2 separate regions of the Homo sapiens genome follow, and region 1 is linked to region 2. The links come from fine-mapping of genetic effects on gene expression. Tissue or cell type: unexposed skin. Region 2 holds a variant in brackets; the other region holds the start of a gene. All regions are shown on one strand. Distances are from middle to middle.

What was found. PIP is the estimated chance that this variant, and not a neighbour inherited with it, causes the effect.
Region 1: it holds the start of SMIM5, and the variant in region 2 is fine-mapped to the expression of SMIM5 in unexposed skin (GTEx, PIP 0.94).

What each region holds. Positions count from the first base shown.
Region 1 is chr17:75,632,096-75,634,595 of GRCh38, forward strand. It overlaps SMIM5 (small integral membrane protein 5), which reads left to right and starts at 1,339. Exons shown (of 3, transcript NM_001162995.3): 1 at 1,339-2,107. The region is part of intron 8 of RECQL5 (RecQ like helicase 5); the gene reads right to left. RefSeq lists enhancers at 411-1,091, 1,092-1,771.
Region 2 is chr17:76,353,365-76,355,864 of GRCh38, forward strand. It overlaps PRPSAP1 (phosphoribosyl pyrophosphate synthetase associated protein 1), which reads right to left and starts at 552. Exons shown (of 10, transcript NM_002766.3): 1 at 170-552. The coding sequence starts at 339. RefSeq lists a silencer at 29-348 and enhancers at 518-1,382, 629-898. The variant T/C (reference allele first, on the strand shown) is at 1,097.

The sequences.
Region 1 (2,500 bases), 720 kb before region 2:
GAAGATGGCTGAGGTGATGTCTGAAGTGCATTACAGTACAGTCATGCCCCATGGAATGACTGCACAGCCAATGGTGGTCCCCTACGATTCTAACACTGTATTTCTACTGTACTTTTTCTATGCTTATGTGTGCTTAGATATGTGAATACCACTGTGTTACAACTGCATACGGTACTCAGGACAGTAACGTGATGTACAGGTTTGTGGTCTAGGAGCAACAAGCTGTAGCGCATGGCCTGGGTGTGTAGGAGGCTGTGCCGCTTGATATTTTTTTCCTTCTCTTCCCTGGAATTGCTGTTTGATTTCCCTAAGTATACTCTGTGACCGCACAATGACAAGTTAAATTTCTCAAAACGTATTTGCATTGCTAAGGCAGGCACGGCTGTGTAGTAATATGTCCCATCATCAACCCGTGAGGGTGTCACAGGTGGGGCCTTTAGCCAGGGAGACGCAGCCTCGCCTGGAGTCCTCCTCTCGTCTTCCTCTGTCTCAACCCTGCTGCAGCCCTCCTGGGGTGAGCGGCCTCTGCCCATGCTGGGAGCAGGGAGCAGCCTCTGGCTGGCCCACGAGGCTCTGTCGCATCTCTGTTCCCTCTGCATGGGGGTGGCTGTCGACCCTTGGGGCAGCTGCAGAGGCCGCAAGAGGGGCCATAGCTCTCTCAGGCTCCTTATAAACAGCCATTCCTGCCACCAGGAACGTGGCACAGGGTAGGGAAGCCCAAGAGGAGATGCTGGAACACAGGCAGGGCTGTCTGGGGTGCCACATCCCAGGGACAAGAATAGCTGGCATTAACTGCTCTAACTAGAACTCCTCCCAGTGTGAGCACTGCTGCGGCTGCAAGAAGCCCTTTGAGGGGCTGCGACCCCAAGGCGCAGGCTCAAGGATGCAAGGCTGATTGCAACACCCCGGTAAGGAAGCAGGGCCTGGCTGACTTTCTTTTAGCTGAGTGAATGCAGCTCTGAAGCCTGACCTGGGCTGGGACAGCCGAGGCGGCCACCAGAGGGCGCTCCTGCCCCCACTCTGCTCCAATGAGTAAATGCAACAAATGGTTCATCCCCAGGAGTCCGTGCGCCCGCACAGCGGCCGCCTGTCCAGCCTCTGGGAGGCTCTGGCATCCGAGTGGTGTGACCACATGGCTGGCTTCCTCCCCCTGCCCTCCTCAGGCCCTGACTCACTGGGGTTTTGTGCTCGGACTCAAAGAGCTCCATTGACAGCGGGGCTGGGGTCGGTTTCTCTCCACACAGCCTAGCCTGCTGGGAGGCACAACCAGGCAAATGTCACAGGGCCCGGCCCCTGGACTCTGGAGCCCTGCCCTGACAGCTGGGCCAGGAGTGCGGTCACAGCCCCAGCAGAAGGCCCTCACCTCACAAGGAACATGAGGCGCCTTGCCGGGCGCGCAGGCCACTCCCAGGTCACTCAGGATTCCAAGTTCTCCCCCAAGACGCCTTCAGATGCTGAGCGGCACAAGGGCCTCCCCAGGGACTGGTTGCAAAGCCTCCTGCTCAGCTTGAGAGGGCCACCAGCTCCCCACTGTTTACTGTTGTTCCTGAGAGAGGCCAGAGGGAGGGACCAGCCAGGGAGTGGCCAGAGGGACAGAAGGGGTGGCCTTCCTGAGGGCAGGGTGGGTGCCCCAGACCTGAGAGCGCTGCAGGACTCCCCTCCACAGGCTCAGGTGGAGCCTCCCCAGGGTCCTCCTGGCCAGGAAGGCAGAGAGCCGACTTCTTTCTTCAGCTCCCAACCCAGGCCCAGCCCACGGCGTGGGAGTCGGGGAGAGGGAGAGGAGGAGGAAGGAGGAGGAGAGAGGGAGCTTGTCTTGTCCCTGAGCAGCGCTCTCAGGGCAGAGGTGAGGCACCGGGACATGAAGTTGGAGGACAAGTTCCCAAGCAGGGCTTCCTCGGGCTCCCCCTCGCGACGGTAATTTGACACTTGGATCTCCAGGACGACCAACAACAAAAAAGCCAGGCAGAGACAGCAGCTGGCTGTCAGCAGAGGAGCTGGGCTGAGGCGCCCAGGGGAGCAGCGGCGCCCACGAAGGAAGTACGAGGACAGCACGTGGAGGCTCCGCGCTGGGGCACTGCTGCTCAGCCCCCAACACCTGAGCTCCCAGGTGAGTGGCAATGGCCACAGAAGAAGGGGGGACAGGGAGGGAGCAGCAAGGGTCCCCTGCCCCCAGGGTGAAGGGCCACAGTCTACCATAAACACGGAGAGGTCTTCGGGGACATGCTGGGTCGCTTCCCTGCAGGGAAGTCAGCCAGCCTCCTGCACACACCTGCACTCTCCCTGCTGCTGGGACCCTGCACTAGGGGAGGGCTGGGGGCTCTGCTCAGAGCGCCTCCTGCTCCGCCTGCTGTGCAGCAGAGGGGCCCCGAGGGCCTGCTTATTCTGCAAGTTCATTTCAGCTCTTTTATTCAGGGGGCTTAAAAGAGGGATTTGGCTGTCCAGCTTGGGAGAGAATGGCTGCCGGCCTGCTGAGCCTCCCTTTTTCCCAGGATTAGGGCAG
Region 2 (2,500 bases):
GGAGCGGGGGGCGGTATCCGTCACCTCCAAGCTTTGTCCGGCTGGGAAGGCCCGCGCCTCCCGCCCCAGGTGCAGGAGGTGGGGCGGGTGGAGGGGAGCGGGTCCCTCCGGGCGCGAAGGAGAGCTAGGCGCCGCCGCCCCCGGCCCGGCCCTCCCACCGCCCCCTTACTCTGTGATGCGCTTGGCCAGCTCCGTGCAGGCGGCCGTGGAGTTGGCCGAGAAGACTCGGTAGCCGGTGCGAGCGGCGTTCATGGCCGGCGGGGGAACGGGGCGGGCGCGCGGGACGCGGAAAGCCGAGGACGCGGAGGGCGGGGGCAACAGCAGCAGCTTCTTGGGCATCGTCCGGCCCGCGGCGCGGTTACGACCGGCCCCGCGCGGGGCTGCACTCTGAGTGCTTCCGACTGCGAGACCCCGGTTTGGGTGGGGAAGGCGCTGAGAAACTCGGCGCAAGCGGGGAGAGCTCCGAGGTCCGTGCCCTTGCGCACCCCACACCACTGACTACAGCGGCCGAGCCTTCGCAGCGCCCGGCGCCGCCGCCTCAGAGCCAGAGGCAAGGCCACCGCCCCCTCCGGGCATCCGAAGAGCGTCGGCTAGAGCGCCCTCAGGCCGCCATCTCGGATGAGGGCAGGGAGCCTGGCGACTCTCTAAAAGCCTGTTCTTCCGAGGGGCATGTCACAGGTTCGCCCCGCCCCTGCTTTGACCGCTTCCACGGGAGCTCTTTCGGTCTCACTTTCTTGGGAGGAGCAGCCTACCTCGGTAGTGGCCCCAGGTGTTTCCAACTTTTTGGCCAGGACCCAACATGTCCGCCTCCGAGGAGGTATACGATCTAGCTCTGCATGTCTATGGTAGCACAGCGCCCGCCCCACGAGGCGCGTGCGCCGGCCGGAGATTAATTTGAAAAGTAGAGGGCGGGGGTTCTTTCCAGCTGGTTGACCGCAGTACTGAAGCGGCCAAAAAGTGGTCTTCTCCTGAGCCTGATCTTTCAGGCGTTTCCGAACAGATCCCCAACCCTGTGTCTGCGTGTAAGGCAAGGTTCCCTGAACGTGCCAAAGGCCCTCTTGCCGGTATTCGCTTTCAATCAAAAAAGCCCTCCTTC[T/C]CCTCTTTCCATATGCGCCACCCCTCCGAGACCCACTCGCGATGCGTCTGTTCCACAGTCTTTCTGGTGACCTCAACCACAGTAAGCCGCCCGGCCCGCGGGACTGTGCCACACGTAGATGCTTGCATTTTTTAAATTTTTGTTGTTGTTGTTATTGTTTTGATGCTTGCATATTTATGTACCTTTGCAAACATCTATTTTCCTAACTAGGATGTAACCCATTTTACGGCCACATCGTGAGTTCCTTTTTTTTTTTTTTAATTTTATTATTATTTATTTATTTTTTGAAATAGGGTCTCCCTCTGCCGCCCAGGCTGGAGTGCAGTGGCGCGATCACGGCTCACTGCAGCCTCTACCTCCCGGGCTCAAGCCATCCTCCTACCTCAGTCATTCAAAATGCCGACATTACAGGCCTCAGCCATCACGCCCCGCCAAGATCGTGTATTCCTGAGTGCTCCGTGTTACCCAGTGTATAGGGCAGTGTGTGGGCTCCAGAGGCCCGCAATCAGTACTTGTTGAAGTAGAAAGTAAAGCCCAGGGAAGCATTTGAGATCTCTAGTTATCAGCTGCACCAGAACTCGAGGGGAGGAGAGGTGCCTCTCACATTGACAGTACCATCTTCTGAGAATGTCCTTTAGAGACTCTGCTTGTGGTGACATTGGGCTTGAGGGAGCAGTAGATTGTGACTCAGCATGTCGTGAAGGACCACAAGTCTGAAGCTACAGGATTTGGAAGTTGAGCTGCCCTGAGCCTGCAGCAGCCTGGCCCCTATTCCAATAGCTCTCTAGAAAAAAAAAAAAAAAAAAAAAGGACAGTGGGTGCACAGCCTAGGCCAAATTATTTAACCACTGCACACATGTCCAGCTCACAGACCCTGACAAAAACCTTGTTACCTTCTTAAAAAAAAGGGGGAATGGGATAGGTGCAGTAGCTCATGCCTGTAATCCCAGCACTTTGGGAGGCCGAGGCGGATGATAGTTTGAGGTCAGGAGTTCAAGACCAGCCTGGGCAACATGGCGAAACCCAATCTGTACTAAAAATACAAAAATTAGCCAGGTGTTGGCTGAGCGTGGTGGCTCACTCCTTTAATCCCAGCACTTTGGGAGGCTGAGGTGGGTGGATCACCTGAGGTCAGGAGTTTGAGACAAGCCTGGCCAAGGTGGCAAAACACTGTCTCTACTAAAAATGCAAAAATTAGGCTGGGCACGGTGGCTCATGCCTGTAATCCCAGCACTTTGGGAGGCTATGGTGGGTGGATCACGAGGTCAGGAATTCGATACCAGCCTGGCCAACATGGTGAAACCCTGTCTCTACTAATAATACAAAAAATTAGCCAGATGTGGCCGGGCGCGGTGGCTCACGCCTGTAATCCCAGCACTTTGAGAGGCTGAGGCGGGCGGATCA